Linked DNA regions of Homo sapiens: all the other regions are linked to region 4. Evidence: fine-mapped expression QTL. A gene starts in region 4. Each other region holds a variant in brackets. All regions are shown on one strand. Distances are from middle to middle.

Region 1 (5,000 bases), 86 kb after region 4:
TTCATTTGCAGAGACACTATTTCCAGGTAAGATTATATTCTGAGATTCTGTCTTTCACGTTATGATGCAAACTGTGGGTTTATCTCACATGTTCTTTATCACATTGAGGAAGTTGCTTGATATTTGTAGTTTGTTGAGTGTTTTTAAAATCATCATGAATGAATGTTGAATTTTGTCAGATGTTTTCTCTGTAAGTATTGAGACGAACATGTAGTTTTTGTCATTTATTCTATTAATATGGGGTAGCACATTAATTTATTTTTTGAATGATAAACCAACCTTGCATTCCTGGAGTGAAGCCCACTTGGTAATGGTGTAAAATTCTTTACACCATAAAAATTCTTTTTATGTTTCTTTGATTATTTGATTTGCTAGTATTTTGTTGAGGAGTTTTACATCTCTACTCATGGGGAATATTACTCTGTATTTTTATTTTCTTATGATGTTTTTTCTGGCCTTGTGTCAGGGTAATAGTGGCTTCAAATAATGAGTTCCCCCCTTCTCTATTTTTTGGAAGAAATTATGGGGTATTGTTATGAATTATTCTTTAAATGTTTGGCAGAATTCACCAGGGAAACCACTAGGCCTTCAACCACAGTATTTTCTTTGTGCAAAGTTTTTTTTGATTACTAGTTTATCTCTTTACTTTTATAGATCTGTTCTGATTTTCTATTTCTTCTTCTTTCTTTTCTTTTTTTTTTTTCTTTTTCTTTTTCTTTTTACTTTGTTTCTAATTCTTTTTTTTTTTTAATTATTATACTTCTAAGTTTTAGGGTACATGTGCACAATGTGCAGGTTTGTTACATATGTATACATGTGCCATGTTGGTGTGCTGCACCCATTAACTCATCATTTAGCATTAGGTATATCTCCTAAGGCTATCCCTCCCCCCTCCCCCCACCCCACAACAGTCCCCGGTGTGTGATGTTCCCCTTCCTGTGTCCATGTGTTCTCTTTGTTCAATTCCCACCTATGAGTGAGAACATGCAGTGTTTGGTTTTTTGTCCTTGCGATAGTTTGCTGAGAATGATGGTTTCCAGCTTCATCCATGTCCCTACAAAGGACATGAACTCATCATTTTTTATGGCTGCATAGTATTCCATGGTGTATATGTACCACATTTTCTTAATCCAGTCTATCATTGTTGGACATTTGGGTTGGTTCCAAGTCTTTGCTATTGTGAATAGTGCCGCTATAAACATACGTGTGCACGTGTCTTTATAGCAGCATGATTTATAATCCTTTGGGTATATACCCAGTAATGGGATGGCTGGGTCAAATGGTATTTCTAGTTCTAGATCCTTGAGGAATCGCCACACTGACTTCCACAATGGTTGAACTAGTTTACAGTCCACCAACAGTGTAAAAGTGTTCCTATTTCTCCACATCCTCTCCAGCACCTGTTGTTTCCTGACTTTTTAATGATCACCATTCTAACTGGTGTGAGATGGTATCTCATTGTGGTTTTGATTTGCATTTCTCTGATGGTCAGTGATGATGAGCATTTTTTCACGTGTTTTTTGGCTGCATAAATGTCTTCTTTTGAGAAGTGTCTGTTCATATCCTTGGCCCACTTTTTGATGCGGTTGTTTGTTTTTTTCTTGTAAATTTGTTTGAGTTCATTGTAGATTCTGGATATTAGCCCTTTGTCAGATTGAGTAGGTTGCAAAAATGTTCTCCCATTTTGTAGGTTGCCTGTTCACTCTGATGGTGGTTTCTTTTGCTGTGCAGAAGCTCTTTAGTTTAAATAGATCCCATTTGTCAATTTTCACTTTTGTTGCCATTGCTTTTGGTGTTTTAGACATGAAGTCCTTGCCCATGCCTATGTCCTGAATGGTATTGCCTAGGTTTTCTTCGAGGGTTTTTGTGGTTTTAGGTCTAACATGTAAGTCTTTAATCCATCTTGAATTAATTTTTGTATAAGGTGTAAGGAAGGGGTCCAGTTTCAGCTTTCTACATATGGCTAGCCAGTTTTCCCAGCACCATTTATTAAATAGGGAATCCTTTCCCCATTGCTTGTTTTTGTCAGGTTTGTCAAAGATCAGGTAGTTGTAGATATGTGGCATTATTTCTGAGGGCTCTGTTCTGTTCCATTGGTCTATATCTCTGTTTTGGTACCAGTACCATGCTGTTTTGGTTACTGTAGCCTTGTAGTGTAGTTTGAAGTCAGGTAGC[A/G]TGATGCCTCCAGCTTTGTTCTTTTGGCTTAGGATTGACTTGGCAATGCGGGCTCTTTTTTGGTTCCCTATGAACTTTAAAGTAGTTTTTTTTTTCCAGTTCTGTGAAGAAAGTCATTGGTAGCTTGATGGGGATGGCATTGAATCTATAAATTACCTTGGGCAGTATGGCCATTTTTATGATACTGATTCTTCCTACCCATGAGCATGGAATGTTCTTCCATTTGTTTGTATCCTCTTTTATTTCGTTGAGCAGTGGTTTGTAGTTCTCCTTGAAGAGGTCCTTCACATCCCTTGTAAGTTGGATTCCTAGGTATTTTATTCTCTTTGAAGCAATTGTGAATGGGAGTTCACTCGTGATTTGGCTCTCTGTTTGTCTGTTATTGGTGTATAAGAATGCTTATGATTTTTTCACATTGATTTTGTATCCTGAGACTTTGCTGAAGTTGCTTATCAGCTTAAGGAGATTTTGGGCTGAGACTATGGGGTTTTCTAGATATACAATCATGTCATCTGCAAACAGGGAAAATTTGACTTCCTCTTTTCCTAATTGAGTGCCCTTTATTTCCTTCTCCTGCCTAATTGCCCTGGCCAGAACTTCCAACACTATGTTGAATAGGAGTGGTGAGAGAGGGCATCCCTGTCTTGTGCCAGTTTTCAAAGGAAATGCTTCCAGTTTTTGTCCATTCAGTATGATATTGGCTGTGGGTTTGTCATAGATAGCTCTTATTATTTTGAGATACATCCCATCAATACCTAATTTATTGAGAGTTTTTAGCATGAAGGGTTGTTGAATTTTGTCAAAGGCCTTTTCTGCATCTATTGAGATAATCATGTGGTTTTTGTCTTTGGTTCTGTTTATATGCTGGATTACGTTTATTGATTTTCGTATATTGAACCAGCCTTGCATCCCAGGGATGAAGCCCACTTGATCATGGTGGATAAGCTTTTTGATGTGTTGCTGGATTCGGTTTGCCAGTATTTTATTGAGGATTTTTGCATCAATGTTCATCAAGGATATTGGTCTAAAATTCTCTTTTTTGGTTGTGTCTCTACCAGGCTTTGGTATCAGGATGATGCTGGCCTCATAAAATGAGTTAGGGAGGATTCTCTCTTTTTCTCTTGATTGGAATAGTTTCAGAAAGAATGGTACCAGCTCCTCCTTGTACCTCTGGTAGAATTCAGCTGTGAATCCATCTGGTCCTGGACTTTTTTTAGTTGGGAAGCTATTAATTATTGCCTCAATTTCAGAGCCTGCTATTAGTCTATTCAGAAATTCAACTTCTTCCTGGTTTAGTCTTGGGAGAGTGTATGTGTCGAGGAATTTATCCATTTCTTCTAGATCTTCTAGTTTATTTGCGTAGAGGTGTTTATAGTATTCTCTGATGGTAGTTTGCATTTCTGTGGGATTGGTGGTGATATCCCCTTTGTCATTTTTTATTGCGTCTATTTGATTCTTCTCTCTTTTCTTCTTTATTAGTCTTGCTAGCAGTCTATCAATTTTGTTGATCTTTTCAAAAAACCAGCTCCTGGATTCATTGATTTTTTTTGAAGGCTTTTTTGTGTCTCTATTTCCTTCAGTTCTGCTCTGATCTTAGTTATTTCTTGCCTTCTGCTAGCTTTTGAATGTGTTTGCTCTTGCTTCTCTAGTTCTTTTAATTGTGATGTTAGGGTGTCAGTTTTAGATCTTTCCTGCTTTCTCTTGTGGGCATTTAGTGCTATAAATTTCCCTCTACACACTTCTTTGAATGTGTCCCAGAGATTCTGGTATGTTGTATCTTTGTTCTCGTTGGTTTCAAAGAACATCTTTATTTCTGCCTTCATTTCGTTATGTATCCAGTAGTCATTCAGGAGCAGGTTGTTCAGTTTCCATGTAGTTGAGCAGTTTTGAGTGAGTTTCTTAATCCTGAGTTCTAGTTCATTGCACTGTGGTCTGAGAGACAGTTTGTTATAATTTCTGTTCTTTTACATTTGCTGAGGAGTGCTTTACTTCCAACTATGTGGTCAATTTTGGAGTAGGTGTGGTGTGGTGCTGAAAAGAATGTATATTCTGTTGATTTGGGGTGGAGAGTTCTGTAGATGTCTATTAGGTCTGCTTGGTGCAGAGCTGAGTTCAATTCCTGGATATCCTTGTTGACTTTCTGTCTCGTTGATCTGTCTAATGTTGACAGTGGGGTGTTAAAGTCTCCCATTATTATTGTGTGGGAGTCTAAGTCTCTTTGTAGGTCACTCGGGACTTGCTTTATGAATCTGGGTGCTCCTGTATTGGGTGCATATATATTTAGGATAGTTAGCTTTTCTTGTTGAATTGATCCCTTTACCATTATGTAATGGCCTTCTTTGTTTCTTTTGATCTTTGTTGGTTTAAAGTCTGTTTTATCTGAGACTAGGATTGGAACCCCTGCCTTTTTTTGTTTTCCATTTGCTTGGTAGATCTTCCTCCATCCCTTTATTTTGAGCCTATATGTGTCTCTGCACGTGAGATGAGTTTCCTGAATACAACACACTGATGGGTCTTGACTCTTTATCCAATTTGCCAGTCAGTGCCTTTTAATTGGAGCATTTAGCCCATTTACATTTAAGGTTAGTATTGTTATGTGTGAATTTGATCCTGTCATTATGATGTTAGCTGGTTATTTTGCTCGTTAGTTGATGCAGTTTCTTCCTAGCCTTGATGGTCTTTACAATTTGGCATGTTTTTGCAGTGGCTGGTACCGGTTGTTCCTTTCCATGTTTAGTGCTTCCTTCAGGAGCTCTTTTAGGGCAGGCCTGGTGGTGACAAAATCTCTCAGCATTTGCTTGTCTGTAAAGTATTTTGTTTCTCCT
Region 2 (5,000 bases), 70 kb after region 4:
ATCATCTTCAATTCTAGAGCAACCTGACAACAATAATGATGCTACTGAATTGGGCATCCTTGTCATTCCTGAGATTAGTGTCACAAATGTGGCCGGAGAGAGAACCGGGAATGGGGAAAAAGGCAGAACACTAGGAGAGATTGATGCTCAGCATATACAGGGTGTGCAGGAAACAGCCACAGATCCTAGAACTGAGAGCAAAGGCTTGCCAGAGATCAGGAGGCAAAAATCTGTAAGAAAAATGATGGAGGATGGAATAAACTCACCTGGCAGAGTGCAGTTTTAGCAGAGCACTTTATAACTGCACTCCAAGGTATCTTAAGGCAAAGGGCCACTGATGCATGTTAAGCAGCAGTTGCACAGTCACAAAAATTTTGCATGTAATCTAATCCAAATGCATGAATTATGCACCACATTTCTCAATGACTCTTAATGTTCTTTGGAATGATTATACCTTTATCGTCTTTGAGTAAATTTTTATGAAAACTGAGGCAGAAAATTCCTTCTAAAATAATTTTCTGCTTATGTTTGGAGTTCTAAAATTACTTTTTCGGCTTTGTCTTTTTGCCATCTTTGTTATGAAGGATAATGTGTATAGAATTTTATGTTTGAGCTTGTGATATTTAGAGTCTAGATTTTTTTAATTTGATAAAATAATCTACAATATAGAGTACAACCTTCTAAAAAAGTCTTTAAAGTATTCTAATACCAATTTTTTAAAAGTTCCTTGGTAAGAGCTTTGATTTTATACTGCTTTGCTACTGAAGGAGAGTTCACCCCTAGTTTTACTGCGTGATATTTCTAATTGTTTCTTATCTTTTGCATGAATAGGAGAATTCTTTCTAAAAACTTAATGGGGTATGGTTTATGGCATGCTTTTTGTTTAATACACTATAAATTACTGTCATTTAATTACAGTGAAGTATTTTTGACATTTTATAATAAATGTTTTGATTTATCCTTTGATTTTCTATAATCTGTTGCTTTATAAATTATGCTAAAGCTTAATTTATGTAAAGCATAACTGATTTGGTGTTAATCATTTAAAAAGATTGCTTAAAATACTTAATGTTAATTAATCTTTGTCATTTCTTTGTTTAGGAAATACAGAATTAACAGGTCAAGAAGAACTGATGGAGATATCTGAAGTTGACGAGGGATTTTATTCCAGGGCTGCGTCTAGTACCAGCCAGTCGGGTTTATCAAACAGTAGTCACAATTGTAGTAACAAGCCAAGTATAGGAAAGAACCACAGACGGTCAGGAGGAAGCAAAACTGGAGGAAAAGAAAAAGAAACTACAGGGGAATCTTGCAAAGATCACTTTGCTCGAAAACAAACTCAGAGAGCCCAAAGTGAGAATCTTGAGCTTCTCTCTTTGAAGAGACTTACTTTAACAACCAGCCAATCCCTACCTAAGCCTAGTAGCCATGGTTTGGCTAAGACCGCAGCGACTGTATTTAGTAAATCCTTTGAACAAGTCAGTGGTGTCACAGTCCCACATAACCCGTCATCTGCTGTTGGTTGTGGGGCTGGGACAGATGCCAATAGGTTTTCCGCTTGTAGTCTCCAAGAAGAAAAGCTTATTTACGTTTCAGAAAGAACTGAACTTCCAATGAAGCATCAATCAGGTCAGCAGAGACCTCCTAGTATTAGCATTACTCTGTCCACAGATTAATTAGTAACATATTTTTCTCCCATAACCTAGTGAACCTGGAAATACAACTTTGCTTCTTTATGAAAGTACCCTGGGTCTTTCATCCGTATTCCTGACAGGAGCCCTGATGTCTTAAATTCTGAAGGCTCCCCTGACTTTATGAAGGGAAGATTGTCTAGGTTGCAGTAAGTTGAAATATGGTTTTGTTATTTCTTGATTAAGATTTTTTCCCCTTGGTTTGAGTCTTTTTTTTCCCTCCTC[T/C]TATTTGTTATTGTTGCCCTAAGATTGTCAGTGACAATAAATTTTGACAGGTTGTCTAATCAAGTTGGTTATGTCTCATGTGAGGTTGTAAGGTGGTTTTTCTTGTTTTGGTTTGGTTTGGTTTTTTAATAGCTCCTATTTTGATGGCTGTGTGTTTGGCCTTCAGAGTCAAAGGGAGTCTGCATGTATGGGAACTGTTTTATAGAGAATGGGGCAGAGGCACAACTCCAGGAATTCTCTAGCTCCTGGTCAGGAAGCCAATCTGAAAACAGGCATGTGGAAACACAAAAATGATGTGTATGAAAAGCACCTGATGAAAATATTTGTAAGCAGATCATCTTTATGATTAGAACAATTTGCTCAAAGCCCTGGAAAATGCCTGGTAACCCAGTGCCTAGAATATTATATGATTCCAGGGGATGGCTAGAGGCATTTCTGTTGTTATCTCTGAAACATTTTTATATCAAAAATCAGATTGCTGGTAGGTGTGTTGTTTTGAAGTGTTTTATCTGGATTTAGCATGTGAAGATCCCTTTCAATTATTAAGGTATAATAGGCTGTAAAGCTGATTTACCCTACTGCTGGACTTTGGAAATCCTAGTTAGTTTGGACTCCTATAATTCAGAGCATACGTCATTGGAAGACTTCCTGGAAATCAGTGTAAATCTTGCAACATAGCTCTCAAGATACCACTGTATAATATGTAATTGTTTGTCTGCAAATGCATTTTTCATCTATAAAATGTCATGAAAGAAAATAAAGGTAGTGAAATATGGACAAAGGACATTTATATATTAACTAAAGTTGTTTATGTTTGTGTTCTTAAATTTAAAACACGAAGAAAAAGAAATGTCTTTCTTGTTAGTGAACAGGCCTGTTTTAAATATCTTAGTATGATATCAAAAGAATAATCAATTTAGTTACCTCCCAACTAAAAAGTAAAAATGAAAAAGACGACATGGCAGAAGTTGAAACAAACTTGTATGTATCTGTATGTGACCTCTAGATGGAAATAAAAGTTTGATGTTTGCTAGCCGTGGTCCTTTTGGCTATGGTTGCGGTTCCCCTGTAAAGCAAATGTACTTAAGTCATCATTCAGAGTGAGAGAGAGAAAGCACGGCTGAGGCTGAGTCAGTTGACCGTTGAGGAAGACCTAAGGAGCTGTCCAGTTCTTGGCTCTTTTTCACTGTGACTGCACAGCGGTTTCCTTCTTCATAGTCCCTTGCTGTAGTCACCAAGAGAGCATGCTAGTGTTTTCCTCTTGTTCCTGCTTATGCAGAGCTCAGATATATGAAAAATTTGTATGCTTTGAAGGCTGCCAAAGCATTTATACTCTGGACATAGTTTTAACTGCAACTGCTTTGGCTACCAGTTTAAACCGAGTTCTTCAAAAAGCATGAACTCGTTTTCATTCATTAGCCCTGTTTACAATGTGGATTTTGACATAAATGAATTTGATTTTCTTTTAGCTCCAGTAACAGAATGGAATAAGATCTATTGCCATAAATTGTAGTTAAGAACTGTAAGGCAATCGGGCAGTGAAACTTGATATTGTATTAACTTAATAGGAACCCTGTGTACAATTTAAAATATTTGTAAAATATCACTGTGAATTTACAGATGTCTTTTTGTCATTCTTTAACAATGAATTTCCCCTGTGCATAGTTATTAATAGTATTGGTATTATTAAAAACTAATTTGGCATTTTAAGATTGGCATTTTAAGCAAGTTGAGGTGCTTAGGAAACATTGTAGAATAAGTTTGGGGAAATGTTAGCTGACAGAGCTGAGAGATCAGATTTTCATGTTCTATCACTGTAATGGAACCTCATTTAGACCTCTCTAGACCTTTGCTAGCTGTGTGGTCTGAGGACCAGTAAGTAGGATTGGCATTATCTGGTATCTTGTTAAAAATGCAGAATTTCATGCCACTCTAGGTCTACTAAATCAGAATTTGCATTCTTAACAAGGTTCCCAAGTGATTTTTATGAGAAGAAAGTATCAGAGTGCAAACAAATTACTCGTCTAATATGTAGAATTCCCAGTGGTCTCACAGCCCTAGATCAAATGTGTCAGACACTAGATCATTATAATCTTCATTGGTTTTGACAGCTAATTAATTAGTTTAATAATATTGACATATGGCTTCTTAAGTATTTGAATTCTAGATTGCTAATGATCCTTATTTTTGCAGTAAAAAAGTAACACTTTATATTTTTCTTGTTAACTATAAATGGAATCAGAGCTGTAAATGCCTGAAATTTTAAGTGTGAAAAGGGGTGCCACCCTTTTATATACTGCACAACAAATTTGCATTTGTATATTCTTTTTAAAAAATCTCTGAAGACTTGCTCAGTGAAATGGTTCTGATTTTTTGCTTCAAATGATTTGCACTAATTGATTTTCTGGAGAGCGGAGTTACGTTAACAACAAAATTCTTTTATAGTTCCTTTGATACTATTTCAAATAAGGATTACACATTGAAAGTTTTTATAGAAATTATGAAAATTGGATAATCTTAACTATGGTAACCATTACTATTATCCATACTACTTTCTCCCCACTGAACTTTCAAATTTGAAAATTGGGGTAGCTTTTGTAGGTCACTTTCTTATAAAGATGCTGATGGTCACAGATCTCCTAAGTATCCAGAATAATATTTTTATCATGAGAAGGATTCCACACAAAATTGGGGTCTTGCACCCCATATTTCAGAGGATCTGAACAGAAATTGTGGCTTCATTGCACATTTTAAATCTCTATAGATTCTTGAAATCACCCAACCTCTCACATTTGAAAACCCAACGGCCTGGAGTATTCTGGTGGCACTGGAGCCAGCACTAGCTTTTTGGAATCCAAGTGGGGAGAGAAACAAAAATAGACTTTTCAAGGGACTGTCCCAGACTACCCAGGGCAAATGTCTTCCCTTCCCTTCCTGAAGCCACAGGAAAGCACCCTGGAGTCCTTTGTATACCACTATGGAAATTTTTAAGGCAAGCTCTCAAGACTTGAAGAGTTGGAATTCTCGGCATTTAAATGATGCCTGAAGTTTGTTTTGAAAAAGCAATATTTCATTGCTCTTTTC
Region 3 (5,000 bases), 170 kb after region 4:
CAGCCTGCCTCTTTTCTGCCTCTGTGACTGGATCCTTTTCATTTTGCCCGCCTTTTACTGCAGAGCTCTCCAGGGCTCAGTCCTCAGATCTCTGCTCTCCTTGATCCACTCCTGTCTAGGTGATGGCTTCGTTTAGTCATACGGTGTGAAATGACATTTTTATTTGATGAATCTTACATTTCTGTCACAGGCCTAGACTATTTCCTGACTTGCAGACTCATCTCTCCAACTGCCCACTCAACATTTGCACTTAGGTTTCTAAAAGGCATCTCAGAATTAACTTATCCAAAACTGAATTCTTGATTTTTCGCCCTCAAAAACTGATCTTGCCACCAGTAACCCCACTGAAGTAAATAGCTATTTCATTCTTCAGATGCCTGTGGCAGAAACCTGGGCAGCATCCCAGACTCCCCTCCTGCTCTTACACCTTACATCTGTCCATTGCAGCAATCCCAGCTCTACCTCTAAACCCCAACTCTGACCACTTCTCAACCACCCTAGTCCAAGTTTCCATGGTCACCCTTCCTGATGATTTTAACAGCTCTCTATGGTACTTTCCTTCCATCTTTGCACCTGCAGGTTATTCTCCACACAAAAGAGTGAACTCTTAAAACGTAAGTGTGATCATGTTATTTCTCTGCCTAGAATTCTTGAGTGGCCTCTCATTTCTTTCAGTGTAAAGTCAAAGTCCTTTCAGCGGCTTACATGGCTGTACATGATGTGGCCTCCATCTGCTGTCTGTCCTACTTCCTGACACTCTGTCCTTTTCACATTTGCTCCATGTACACTGGCCTCCTTGCTGTATTTTGAATGTAGCAAACATGCCTGCCTCTGGGCCTTAGCACTTGCTGTTCCTCTGCCCAGAATGCTCTTCCCCCAGGTTTCATTTTGGCCTGCACTGTCTCTTCCTTGAGGTCTCCAGTCATAAGCCACCTATTATGGCTGAATTGTGTTCCCCCAAAATGCATAGGTTGAAGCCCTAACCCTCCATGTGACTGACTAGACAGTATTTAGAGATTCGGCCTTTTGGGAGGTTAGATGAGGTTTTGAGAGAGGGGCCCTAATCCAACAGGACTGGTGTCCTTATAAGAAGAGGAAGAGATACCAGAGGCCCTTCTCTCTCCCCGGCACACATGAACAGAGGAAAGACCATGTGAGGCACTGCGAGAAGGCAGCTGCCCATACTCCAGGAAGAGAGTCCTCACCAGCAACCATCCCTGCTGGTACCTTGATCTTGGACTTGGAGCTTTCAGAACTGTGAGAGAGTGAGTTTCTGTTATGTAAGCCCCCAGTCTGTGGTCCTCTGTTATAACAGCCCAAGTCCACTAAGACACCACGTTAGAACTGCCTCGTATAAAGTGCCAACTCCCCTCATCTCACCCAGCATGCCTGTCCTCCCTAATCTGTTTTTCTCTTCACAGTGCCCTAACTTCCTTTTCTTGTTTGCATGTTTGTTTTTTTTCCTCTTCCCTGAATAGAACATCAGTGCCATGAGGGCAGAGGCTTGTACTCACAGCACCTAGCACTGCGTCTGGTGCATCTTAGGCCCCCACTTAATGGTTAAGTGCCCACGATTGAACTGGAGAAAATTCCACTGTGCTACCATTGCTCCAAATTCTGCAGACAACTACAGGTGCCCAAGAGGAAGAAAGCACTGTCAAAAAGTGAGCACCAGCCACAGTGGCCACCTAATTTATATAGTCTCACTTCTGTCATTCCTAGAACCAATTAAGGATTGCATTTGGCTACACATAATAAAAATCTGACTACAGGGGCTTAACCAAATAGAGATCTCATTTTCCTCACACAACAGTTCAGAACTGGTTCAAAGGGACCCAGGATCTTTCTTTCTGTTCAGCCATCCTTAAAATATAGCTTTAGCCCTTCTAATTAACTCCTCGCGGTCACACATCCTGCATTCTCATCTGCATTCTCAAGAAGACCAAGAAGGGTGAAGGGCAAAGGGCAAAGGTGAATGTCAACTGAGGTAGCCCTTTTAAAAACTGTTTTTTCCTAGAAGCCCTACTTGGTGATTCCCTTTACATCTCATTGGCCAGAACTGTGTTACATGCCCTCCTCTAGCTGAAAATGATACTGAGAAACACATTAAAAAAAAAAAAACAACGCCGGGTACAGTGGCTCACAACTGTAATTTCAGCACTTTGGGAGGCTGAGGCAGGCGGATCACCTGAGGTCAGGAGTTCGAGACCAGCCTGGCCAACATGATGATGAAACCCCGTCTCTACCAAAAATACAAAAATTAGCTGGGCGTGGTGGCGCATACCTGTAATCCTTGCTACTTGGGAGGCTGAGGCAGGAGAATTGCTTGAACCCGGGAGACGGATGTTGCAGTGAGCATTCCAGTCTGGGCAACAAGAGCGAAACTCAGTCTCAAAACAACAACAACAACAACAACAACAACAACACCACGCTAGGCACATTACCACTCTAAATAAAAACAGAGTACTTTTGTAGAAAAGATGCCATGGAGTAATAACAATTGGCTAGGTGTCCAACAGTGTGGGCCTATCCCTGTTTTACAGGAAAAGGCCCGCACTTTTCAGTTCCTGGAAGAGTATAAGCCAGCACCACATTCCAAGTGTCTACTATAATCTGGATGGAGTTCCAGGTAGTGAGAACAGCTTGTACAGAATTTCTGAGTGGACATGAGAAAGAGCTTCCCTGTGGCTGGATCTCGGAGTGGGCGTGTGGGAGAATAATTGCAGGTGAAGCTTTGTTTGGTTCCTTTTTTTTTTTACGTAATTGTTCAAATCAACATTGCCAAGTTTAAATTTCAAGAGGGTAGGAATTGTGACTGCTTAATTTCTGCATATAAAGCCCAGGCTGCCTGAGCCACATGCAGGCAGTTACTAACAATTGACCCTCACAGAAATGGTAATAAATGACGTAAAGCCACTTGATTGCTTTGTCCTTTT[T/C]GATTAACGCATATTTATGACCCACATGTGGTGTGGGAGCCTGGAAATAGCTGCCAGGCCCATCCAGATCTGTGCTGGGTAATTGAATGCGGCAATGCCACAAATGGCTACTCCTAAATCATGCTTTTTGCTTTAGAGAAATTATAATGAAAAATGAATAATCCTTTTATTCTTTCCAGAGAAGTACACAATGTGTATTCAGTTCCTAACCCGTGACATTCCTAAGCATCTGTGTGAACATGACTTCCTGCCTTCCAGAAAAGCAACAGGGCCTGTTTAGGTTCCTTTTGCTTCCATCCTGTGTCCTTTCTCCTCTCCTTGCCAAATGTAGTCTTCAAGTTGGGGCAGCAGCGTCACAAATGCTGGCTTGAGAACAGAGTTACTCTGTATTTTTCTGTTGCTGGTCTGCGCTTCCTGTTGAGCCCATGTTCTGCTGGATAGGGCTTGAGGTGCCTTGCAGGTCTCACACTTTAGTCCAGTCAAGTAATTTATTCAGATTCAATAATTTAAACAGGCGTTTGAGGTAAATGTTCAGTCTATTTTTGTAACAGACTTAGTCTTTCGGGTTTCTGCTCCCCTTCCCTTTGCCTCTCCAGATGGCATCTGGTGTATGTGTGTGGCGGGGGGAGGGAGGTGCTTACGGCAGGGGAAGGGAAACAGGGTTACGGGGTTGATGCACATCCTCACTGGCCTCTGCTGGGGTCTGAACTGCCCTCAGGACAGTGACCGCTGAGATGCAACTGTTCCCAGTCTTACGTCGTCTCTGGAGTTTGCTGCTGAAACCTGAGATGTGATCACACGCTCTTGGGTTGGGCAAGCCTTGGGAATCTGCCCTGGACAACTCCAGTCAATGTTGCCTGCTTTGGTCACTCTATCTTTTTTTTTTTTTTTTTTTTTTTTTTAAGACGTAGTCTCGCTCTGTCGCCCAGGCTGGCGTGCAGTGGCACGATATCGGCTCACTGCAAGCTCCGCCTCCCGGGTTCACGCCATTCTCCTGCCTCAGCCTCCCGAGTAGCTGGGACTACAGGCGCCCGCCACCACGCCCGGCTAATTTTTTGTATTTTTTTTTTAGTGGAGACGGGGTTTCACCGTGTTAGCCATGATGGTCTCGATCTCCTGACCTCGTGATCCACCCATCTTGGCCTCCCAAAGTGCTGGGATTACAGGCATGAGCCACCGCACTGGCCCCCTCCATTACTTTCTATCGCTTTACCCTGCTTTCTTTATTGCAATTATCTTTCTCCATCTATTTGTCTCTCAATTAGCTTCTGCTAATAAAACTTAAGTGCCTTTGAAGATTATCATTTCTGTTTAGAGGTCTTCTATCCTCTAGAACGGTGGGGGAGTTATTTCCTTATCTCTCTCTCTCCCCATGTCTTTCTCCCTCCACCCCCCTATCTACACCAATACGTATCTATATCTATATGTATCTATATTAGTCAAATACATGAACTCTAAAATTTAACTTCCTGGATTCAAATCCCCATTCTGTTACTTTTTAACTCTGTATACTTGAACAGGTTGCTTAGCTTGCCTATGCCTTAATGTCCTTATTTGTAAAATAAGGATAATAGCAGTACCTGCTGTATAGGTTGTGATAAAGATAAAATGAGGTAATGTGTAGAAAGAGTTTAGGAAAGGGGCTGGCTCATGGGAAGCACCATGTAAGTATTTGCTGCTGGTATTATGGTTGACTGCTTATTGTTACTATTATCCGCCATTAGAATACAAAGTCCACAGAAGCAGAAACTTTATCTTTTTTATTGTTATATTTTCTAGTCTTTAAGCAATGCCTAACACATAGCAGGCACTTAATAACTACTGTATTGGTTGGGTGAATAAATAAATGAGTGTATTGAGAAACAACAACAACAAAAAGAAAAACACAGTCTTTCAAAAAAGATGACAACCCTTTCACACTCCCTCTAGTAAAAGTTTATGTTTCTCTCAAGGTTCTTCACTACTACTTAGGGCTGTCCTATCCCTAAACTAGTGATAACTAGGTCTTAGGCTTTAACGGATTTTTTTCTACCCGGAAACTACACCACTGTAGGACTACCAAGC
Region 4 (5,000 bases):
AGTGATTCTAATGAGCAGACAGGAAGCCACAAGGCAAAAGGAGAAAATCTGAACAACTGAGCTTGCCTTCAAGGTGTTCTATTATCTATCTGCAACCTAGCTTGCCAGGCTTGGCTGACTCAAGTTGCCTCCCATGCCCTCTGAACATTGCTTGTGCTTCCCCTCTTGTGTTATTTCTCCAGGCATTCTGGGAGTTACTTTCTCACCATTTTATCTGGTTCAAATTCCTCCCCAGTTTTCTAGACCCAGCCCATTTTGCCTTTTTCATGAAGCCTTCCCTGACTGCCCTTGACTGCAGTGCTTGCATCCTCCTCTGAAAACACAGCGGCTAATGCCTAGAAAATCATTTGAACAATGAATCGATTATGTACTGCCTTATGTAATCTCTCCACTGCTGCATTAAATAATTACTTTAATCTTTGCTTAACCTTTCATCTGTTTGTTATGCAGCTAACTATACTATAAGCAAGCTTCTAGCATTCATCTGTATCCTTGACAAGCCACGTGCCTTGTACAGTACAGGAAGTCAATAATATTTACCTGTCCCTTCCATCCTGACTTCCACAGGTTTGGTTCGAGATTCTCTCCTGGAATCTTGTCCTGGTCTTGGCTGGGCTTCCTGCCACCAGAAACTTTGGCTCTTCAAATCAGGTCAACACATTACTGGCACACATGGCCAATGGCCAGTAAAACTGATGGTGTGTGTGTGTGTGTGTGTGTGTGTGTGCATGCGCGTAGGTGTGCACTCTTTTGCCCACTCTTGTTTCTCTCTATCTTATGATCTGGCTGACTCGGTTTCTTTCCTTCCTTGGTCCCTCACTCTCCTACTCAATGGGACTTGACGGCAGAATTCAACGTCTCAGGTTTTGACTGCTTGTGTTCTCTAAGATGAATAACATGCTGCCTGGATCTTCCTCTCCCTATTTCTTTGAGTAAACACTTGTCCTGAACAGGCTCTGGCCAAGGGGACCTAAATTAAGTCAGTCTGATCTGTCAAGAATTTCCTCTCTACCCTGTTTTTTTTTCTTTGGATTCTCACCATTTAAAAGAAACCTGATTGCATTGTCCACATGATTAAAAGCTGTTGTCTGTCCCTCATTGCCTTAAGAAGAAAATCTAAACCTGAGCTATCCAATATGGGAGTTGTTAAAGTTAAAATTAAAAATTAATGCCAGACATGGTGGTTCACACCTGTAATCCCAGCACTTTGGGAGGCTGAGGTGGGTGGAGCACCTGAGGTCAGGAGTTCGAGACCAGCCTGGCCAACATGGTGAACCCCTGTCTCTACAAAAAATACAAAAATTAGCTGGGTGTGGTGGTGAGTTCATGTAACCCCAGCTACTCAGGAGGCTGAGGCAGGAGAATTGCTTGAACCTGGGAAGTGGAAGTGCAGTGAGGTAAGATCCCACCACTGTACTCCAGCCTGGGTGACAGAGGGAGACTCTGCCAAAAAAAAAAAAAATTAAAAATTGAGTTTCAGCCGTGTATGGTAGTTCATGTCTGTAATCCCAGCACTTTGGGAGGCTGAGGTGGGAGGATCACTTAAGCACTCTACCCCAGTTTGGGTGACAGAGTGAGACCTTGTCTCAAAAATAAATAAATAAATAAATAAATACATTGAGCTCTTCAGTCACACCACATTTCAAGTATTTGATAGCCACATGTGGCTAATGGCTACTATTTTGGACAACACAAATATAGAACATTTTCACCAGTGCAGAAAGCTCTGCTGGACAGTGCTTGTCTGAATATCTTAGTGTAGCTTGTGAGGTCTTTTACAATCTCACCTCAACCTTTTGCTCCAGCCCAATTTTTGGCCGTTCCTCATCATTTAACCCCATCTACCTTCTCAACATTCCACAATGGCTCTGTGCCCTTTCACAGCTCCATGCCTTTGAACATGGTGTTCTCCCTTTCTGAAATACCCTTTGACTTTCTTCTCTGGCAAACTCCCATTTACCTTTTAAGATCCAACTCAAACATTACCTTCCTTGTGGAGTTCGCTGACTTTCCTAAACAGTCATTTCTTGTCCTCTGTTTCCATTGCTCATTGAACCAATCTCTATTGTCCTTATCACTGTAGTTTGTTATTATTTACTCATTAATCTGATCCTCCCTTTGGAGGGGGATCCTATCTGTTTTAGCAATCTGCCCTAATAATTACCTGAAATTGTTTGCTTGATACCCTTTTGATATCAAGTAATATATCTTCTTATTTATGTGCTTGTTATTTATGAGTTCAGCATGTTTGAAAAGTTCACTTAGTGTTTCTGGAGAAATCCTGCCCATTTCTAGTGTAAAGCTAGAATGAACTTCCTGTCTTCTAGGGTGGAGGTCAGTTTTTCTTCTAATTAATCCTGACCAGTCTTGAGAAGGATGTGGTAGGAGAGGTTTACAAGGTCAAAAACAGCAGTACTGTCTGCAGGCGCAGGTTCAGGTGTTCTCGGGTTCCAGTTATTATACAAAACATTTAGTATATGTTCAGAGAAAAAGTAGGGAGGAATGATGGAAAAAATAAAAACAACCCCCATGGAAAGAAAACTGAGGCATCGTATTTGACTTTTTCCAGGCTAAGCCCAAAAGCAATGATGTAGTGAGGGGGAAGTTTGTATTTCCATTTTGCAAAAACGTAATTTTTTTTTCCTCCCGGGATTTGATAAGATTTTGATAAATTCTTGTGAATTTAATTACAGGGAAGTAAATCCTACTGACTAGTAAATTATCAATTTGTTTCTCTTTTCTCACAAAAGAGAAACAAATTGATACCCTTCACATCATCCGGTAAGGTTTATTTTTTTCTGAGAAGGCCATAAGCCCTAACGGCTCAGAATCTAAGAGACCTTCGCTGATTGTCATCGCCTAGCGGCCACCGCAAACCTTACAGTCAATCAACTTCCCTCGGACGCCCGGATCACGCCCATTGCTCAGACCACGCCCACTCAAGGCGCCTCATGGCTCCGCCCCAGGCCCAGCAGAAGAAGATTCTCATTGGTGGAGAAGTTGTTCTGATCCCGCCCCGGAGGACGGCGATAGGCTGAACTGGCGTGGGGCGGTGGTGGTTGGCTGCTTGAGGACGGGTCCCTGGTCGTGCCTGTCAGAGAGGCTGGCGGCAGTGGTGGCTCTCCCGGCTGGGTTGTCAGTCAGTGAGAGGAGGGGGAAGATGGCTCACCGGGACCCGTTCTGCTAGGAAGAAGGGGAGCAGGTGGTGCTGCTACTCGGGAGGAAGCAGAGCAGCCTCCGTCGCTGTCGCTGAGAGCCTCACGAGTCGAGGTCCTGCAGGTGGAGCTCCGGCAGCCGCCCTGGTGAGTCCAGCCGAGAGACCCACGCCGGGCCCCCAGGGCGTCCGGCAACGGATAACTTTTTTTTGTCAGGGAGGAGCCGGGGCGAGGCGGCGGCGAGGACAGGACCGGGACTTTGTCCCTGGGGCCGCGGCTCCACTGGGGGTAACGGCTCCCGCGCGAGGCGCCATGGGTGGGTGCGAGGCGGCGCGGGGCGCTGGGGGCGGCTGGCGGGCGGGTGGGCTGCGGCCGGCGCTGCTCGCCCCGAAGTTGGGCGCAGCCTGCCCGCTGCCTGGAGGGCGGCAGCTTTGTGCGCGCGACTCGGGTCTTTCCTTCCCGGCGAGGAGCAGTCCAGCCTCCTGCTGTGACCCGGGTGCCGCCGCCTCGGCCCCACCGGCCGCCCCTCTGCCGGGTGGGCCTGGGGCGGGAGCCCCCCGTCCCCTCCCTGCCGCGGCGGATGCTCTGGCCTCTGCCTCCTCTCCCACTCGCGCCCTCTACTTCGGCGAGGCCGCCACTGTCCGTCCGGTCTGGTGGCCACAATGGTCACTGTCGACCCCCCGCCCTCGCCCCCTGGAGAGCAGCGTTGGCCCGAGTCGGTCTTTGGTCCCCTGCAGGGCGGAGAGGTTCAGACAGCAGCCACGCTTCCTTCCTTGGTTATTTCGCTGAAGATCTCTTCTTGAGCCCTTGCCCCTTCTTTCTATGAGTTATTCCTCTCCTGAGGCTCATTTTAACATACTCGGGAATCCTCGGGGGTTTGGCTGAAAATGGTTGCATTAAAACACCCCCAAGTTTGTACGCTTCCCCGAAATTTGCTGTCTGCCCGTCAGCTTGCACATGTGTGCTTTGTGAGTTTAGACATTCCTGAAAGATTTTAATTTTGCCTAAGTGGTTTAGTACTGCACAGAATCTGCTCTCTGAGAAATACACTATCACAAGCCTGGCAGCCGCGGCGCTCTTCAGGTAGGGGGAATTTGTTCCACCGGCAGCTACTTCTTATCTCAGAGACTGCCCTACAGGCAGTAGGGCCAAGCTGACCTTTTGCAAATTATTTATCCTTGGATCACACAGTAGTTTTTGGAGCAGGTGGGCCACCTCTTTGGTTCATGTAACACTTTACAGTTTGAGGTTTTCAGCTTTCAAATCTTATTGCCATAAAGTCAGAAAGACTGGGAGGCTTGTTTTCCATGAAAACATTCTACTGCTAACATCCACAGGCACCCCACCTCCCCCGACATTTCCAAGTATTTTTTTTTCTTTAGGTGAATACATTTTAAGGTTTACAGGATGAATAGTAGTCTAAACCACCATATTTTTGAAGTGCAGGCAAAGACAAGGAAGGAAAAACATTTAAGATCTGCTTGGCCAATAGTGGCTTCAAAGTCAGCTATTCAAATAATCAGTTCAATCAAACCAAGTGGCAAGGGGGAAAAGCATCACATATTTAGGAAACAAATTCTGGATTTGGCTCGTTTATCCTTATTCGATTTATTGAAATTACCATGAGGGATTAGAAGGATTAGAAACCTTCTTAGTCATCGGCATTAGCAGTACCTGGATACAGACACCCGATAAGGCATTAGCTGGGTCAGCGTTTATCCTTGCTCTGCTTCCTTTCATTGTTGTATTTCTGTTTTATGAAATTTGCTCTGGGTTGTATTTTTTAGACTGGTGTCTTTGACGGTGAGTTTAAATATATGTACTGTTTTATTCAGCATCCTGTTG
Region 5 (5,000 bases), 39 kb after region 4:
TTGCATTACTAATAGAGTTTATATGTTAATTCGTATGGTATTCTAGATACTTAAGTTTTGTACCTTTCAAAATAGAAAAGAAATATAAGGTCATTTTCTTCACATATTTCATATTTAAATGATTACTTCGCTTAGCAAATATAACTTGTTACATGAGTAAGATCAAGGATTATTAAGACACTGTATCTGTATCTCAGCCATCCTGAAAATTTGTTACATATGTTTTTTAAGTGGAAGGATGTACAGTTTAACTACCGGTGTTGATGAATAATAATGGATTATCATGGTTTAAGGTTTTAACTTAAAATTCCTTTCTATTCAGGTCTTTTTCAAAAAAATGTTTTAGACTATTTAAATTTAGTTTGTAAATTTGTGTGTAAGAAAGTATGTATTTTAATATATTTTCTTTCACTTCTATAGGAAATAGTTGACAAACAGGGACATACCAAAGTATTGAGTTTTACGATTCCATCTTTATCCAAACCATCTGTATACCATGAAGTAAGTGACATTTTATCACAGTAAGTTTATTGACCCTAAGCTTTGATATTGCCACAAGTTATAATCTAGTTATTTAGGAAAAAAATTGATCAATTTATTAGTACCTGCAAAAGTATAAACACCCACAAAGTATTTACTATTTCCAAATTGAGATAAGAAATCAAAATAAATGAACATCAAACTAAAATGTGCTAATAAGAGATCTATTGAAAGTATTCTTTTTGAAATATTTTTCCCTCTTCCTGATGGATGGCTACTTGTGTGTGTTGGCCGGCGGGCAGGGGGGTGGTGGGTGGGCAATTGTGTATTTCCATGGTAGAATTTGTGAAATTAAACTAATTTTTATTTCTCATTTGTGGTTTGTTTTAAAATTAGTTATTAAATCTTCGAGCAGAAAATTTGGTAGGCAGCCTAAATATGTTTAAGATATATGATGTTCGTGGTAGCTATTTTAGTGGTATATATATATTCTATATATCACCTTTTCAGCAGAATAGCTTTTTTTTTCTTTATTCAAATGTCTTTTCTCTAGCCTTCCAGCATTGGGTCCATGGCTCTGACTGAGAGTGCACTATCCCAGCATGGTTTGTCAAAAGTGGTATACAGTGGACCTCATCCTCAAAGGGAGATGCTGACAGCACAGAATCGGTATACTGTGGGGATAAAAATTCTTATCTTAATCCACTAATTTTTTAAGAAAATTATTTCAGTAGACTTATAAATAATGTTTAATGAGTTGTGTGTGACAATTTATTTGAATACTGAGTCATTTTATACAAGAGAAAAACAGATCTAGATTTGTCACTGTGCTTTGCTTCAGGTGTCAGCTGGAACACTGAATTTTAAAGACAGGTTTCATATGGCTGTTACTTGGAAAGTCTTTTTTTCCTTGTAGTTTTTCATTATTGGTGTGCTTATACTGTGCAGGTCTGTTCTGTAACATTGTATCTCTCCCCAAGGAGTGCTCTCTCCCCTATTATAGTTGACTTCTTAGAATTCTAAAGATTTGTTAATATTCTTTTTGTTTGTCTTTAGGTTTGAAGTGTTGACATTCCTTTTGTTGTGTTACAATGCTGCCTTAACTTACATGCCCAGTGTTTCTCTTCAGTCACTGTGTCAAATTTGTTCAAGGTAAAGTAAAATTCAAGTGCTTCTAATATTGAAATATATGAATCTATGATTGCTAGTCTGGTACATACCTAAGTTATTTTTGTTTTGTGTAATCATTTGTTTAAAACATTAAATAAGTTAATGTAAAGCTCAGCCTACCCAACACATGGAAAGTTCCCTATAATTGATAGTCACAAAAAACATGATAAAGGGCCGGATGCGATAGCTCATGTCTGTAATTTCAGCACTTTGAGAACCTGAGGTGGGAGTATTGCGTGAACCCAGGAGTTCAAAACCAGCCTGGGCAACATAGCAAGACCCCTGTCTCTATAACAAATTTTAAAAAATCAGCTGGGCATGGTGGTGCACGCCTGTAGTCCCAGCTACCTGGGAGGCTGAGGTGGGAGGATCACTTGAGCCCGGGAGGTTGAGGCTACAGTGAGCTATGATTGCACCACTGCACTCCAGTCTGGGCGATAGAGCAGGACCCTGTCTCAAAAACAAAGAACACAAACAAAAACAACAAAAACAAGAACATCATGAAGAATGTAAAGCTGAATAACGTTTAAATTGACTATTTAATCAGAAAAGGATTATAGTATATAGCTAAATGATAGAGCTGTTATGACCTTTCAAGTTTTGGCATGTGGTTGGCTTCTTTTTGTTTGCATTTATTTATTTATTTTTACTGTGCTCTAATTTGGAACTAAGAAATAAGTAAGAGATACTGGTTCTTAAACTTTTCTTGTTAAAAATAAATTGAGCCAAGGGGTTATAAAATAAATTATATCCTTGAGTATAGTATATTCACATTTTAAAAATCCTGATTTAAAAGAGTAGTTAATGATAGTATGTATGGTATGATTTCCTGATTGGTTGAATATGACCAGAATATTAACAATGATTATCTCTAGTTGGTGGAATTGTGGTTTATTTTAATTTTCTCCTTTGTGATTTTTTTTGTGATTTTCTAAATTTTTGGTAATGTGAATGTTACTTTTTTTAAAAAGGAGAAACAAAACAAACAAAAATGACAGATTATTCCCCTCGATAATTCAAGTAAATAAGAGATATTATAGAACTAAGGAACATGTGGAATAATTTCTATTTGAGGAATTTATTTAGAAAATGCAACTTATCCTGAGTGTATTAGTCCATTTTCATACTGCTATGAAGAAATACCCGAGACTGGGTAATTTATAAAGGAAAAGATGTTTAGTGGACTCACAGTTCCACATGGCTGGGGAGCCTCACAATCATGGTGGAAAGTAAAGGAGGAACAAAGGCACGTCTTACATGGCAGCAGGCAAGAAAGCATATGCAGG[A/G]GAACTCCCCTTTATAAAACCATCAGATCTCATGAGACTTATTCACTATTGTGAGAACAGCATGGGAAAACCCAACCCCATGATTCAATTACCCCCTGACTGGGTTCCTCCCACGACATGTGGAGATTATGGGAGCTACAGTTGAAGATGAGATTTGAGTAGGGACACAGCCAAACCATATCACAGAGGACGGGATCATTGAGCAATACTTAGAAATGAAATGAAAACAAAATAAACAAAAAATCAGAACTTGATACTGAATAGGATAGAAAGCCATGCAGAATCAGCAGAGGAAGAGAATTCACAAGACAAAGGGCTTGGTAGAGAAGATAGAGACGTGAAGTCTTTCAGGTGTTTTCCAAATTAGAGCATAATTACATTTCCTAACCTTAAAAGATGGTACCAGTGGTTCATCTCTCCCACTCACCAAGTCGTTCTAAGATGTTTTTTGCTTTAAATTGTTTAAAGGCAGAAATGTCCGGACTTTTGAATTTCACAGATCTGTAAAATCTCAAAAAAGGTGGAACAGCTGGGTTATTTACATAAGTGTTGGCAACTTTTTATTTTGCCAAGTCATTATATTGTAAATGTCTACCATCAACATTATTTAACAAAAGGGAGACTATTTTAATATCAAAAAGGTGGGAGGGTGGAAGGGAAGGAAAATAATTTATAAGTTAAAAATGGGATAAGTTTAGCTTTCCTTGCTTTTCGTTTCACTATGGTCTAGTGAAAACTCTGTTATCGACTAAAATGGGTATAAGGACCAACATTCAGAAATACTGGTTTAAGGAGTAACAATGCAGCAATTTTCACCTCTAGAACTTAGAACACACTGCAAAGTCCAGGTCCTACTTTGAAGCAGTGTATTAGATGGTAGGATCCAGGAATGCCTATATATGTATATATTTGTATTTTTATGTATTATATATAAATGTATTTTTTGAAGCTCCATAGATGTTCTAATACAGTGCCCAACCACTCTTGACGTTTCCCTGAAACTACTGACGGAAAAGTTAGAAAAGAACATGTGTCACTGATTTTTAGCCTATCTAACTCTAACGTAGTACATTCTAATATACTTACTTTTATATTATGAGTAGAAAATTGCTAATATACCAATTTTACCTGACCAGGGAACTGAATAATTCTTCAACAGAGAATGCAAGTAAAAACTGGCTTTAAAAACAAAGAGAAACAGATTATTTTAAAACTAGCTATAGGATTTTGGCCAAGGAAGTTTTGGTAGAAATAGATCAATTTATGCCACAAGAGAAATTAATTTCATGTAAATGTCCACCAGCTGTGAAAAAAAACAAGAGTGGGGGAAAAGATCTAAGTAATTTAAAAGACTTAAGCTATCTAAATAATGCTAACTCTTAACTACAATGTGTTATATTAGAGGAACTCTATCAAATTTATCATTCCTGTCATTTTTAGTTGTTTATGTCTTTAAGTTTTCATTTTAGATTCCCTATTGACTGTATTCTCAATGATAAAATCCAGTTATTTATTTCTCTTACCTACTGGCTTTCTTAATCATTTATCAGATATTCTAATTAGGAGGTTTTGTACATTTCTAAGATGAATAGAAAAGAATTAGAAAACACTTTTGTTAATCATGTTAAGCCTAGTTCATATCTATGGAAAGAAAATTGGTTACAGAACTGTGGTGATAAGTAAGTTAGAAATGGTTATACCAGTTAAAGTACAAGAGCTTCTTAATGATCTTAGCACTAACACAGGTTTTCCTGAAGATGAAAGTGATCCTGCTGTTACATGGGCCATCTAATCCTGTTTGCCATGTGATAGTTGTTTTAGATTGCTGCTCAATTTGGTTGATGACTATACCAAAATGATTGACTGGGTCATCTAGGAGAAAGGATACATAAATACAACCAGAAAAAATTCATGGGATAGATGAACTAGATTCAGTGACAAATGTGTTACAGTCTTTTTTTAATCTTCTGATTTTAATTAGTTATGAAAATAATTAAAACAATCTTGAACACTTCCCACCCTCCACCTATGCTCACACAAATTCATTCTACTGAGCAAAAATCT

Which allele goes with the higher level. Positions count from the first base shown, and alleles are read on the strand shown. Sizes are in standard deviations (SD) of each study's normalised expression. Not every link is listed here.
With allele G in place of A in region 1, the expression in iPS cells of the gene that starts at base 3,097 in region 4 is lower (small effect, 0.31 SD a copy in HipSci).
With allele G in place of A in region 5, the expression in monocytes after LPS of the gene that starts at base 3,097 in region 4 is higher (large effect, 1.3 SD a copy in Quach 2016).

Evidence for each region.
Region 1: its variant is fine-mapped to the expression of HYCC1 in iPS cells (HipSci, PIP 0.95).
Region 2: its variant is fine-mapped to the expression of HYCC1 in whole blood (TOPMed, PIP above 0.99).
Region 3: its variant is fine-mapped to the expression of HYCC1 in tibial nerve (GTEx, PIP above 0.99).
Region 5: its variant is fine-mapped to the expression of HYCC1 in monocytes after LPS (Quach 2016, PIP 0.95). The same link has a PIP of 0.9 or more in monocytes after Pam3CSK4 and monocytes after R848.

What each region holds. Positions count from the first base shown.
Region 1 is chr7:22,926,097-22,931,096 of GRCh38, reverse strand. It overlaps a transcript of HYCC1 not described here. Among named protein-coding and RNA genes, the nearest start is that of SNORD93, 72 kb to the right of the region's middle. The variant A/G (reference allele first, on the strand shown) is at 2,176.
Region 2 is chr7:22,942,265-22,947,264 of GRCh38, reverse strand. It overlaps HYCC1 (hyccin PI4KA lipid kinase complex subunit 1), which reads left to right. Exons shown (of 11, transcript NM_032581.4): 11 at 1,102-5,000. The coding sequence ends at 1,676. Among named protein-coding and RNA genes, the nearest start is that of HYCC1, 69 kb to the left of the region's middle. The variant T/C (reference allele first, on the strand shown) is at 1,917.
Region 3 is chr7:22,840,801-22,845,800 of GRCh38, reverse strand. No RefSeq gene overlaps it. Among named protein-coding and RNA genes, the nearest start is that of SNHG26, 11 kb to the left of the region's middle. RefSeq lists an enhancer at 1,597-2,097. The variant T/C (reference allele first, on the strand shown) is at 2,937.
Region 4 is chr7:23,012,227-23,017,226 of GRCh38, reverse strand. HYCC1 (hyccin PI4KA lipid kinase complex subunit 1) reads left to right here and starts at 3,097. Exons shown (of 11, transcript NM_032581.4): 1 at 3,097-3,302. RefSeq lists enhancers at 2,767-2,946, 3,107-3,296, 3,714-4,395 and a silencer at 3,487-3,756.
Region 5 is chr7:22,972,842-22,977,841 of GRCh38, reverse strand. HYCC1 (hyccin PI4KA lipid kinase complex subunit 1) reads left to right here. Exons shown (of 11, transcript NM_032581.4): 5 at 421-501; 6 at 1,034-1,149; 7 at 1,537-1,632. Among named protein-coding and RNA genes, the nearest start is that of HYCC1, 39 kb to the left of the region's middle. The variant A/G (reference allele first, on the strand shown) is at 2,937.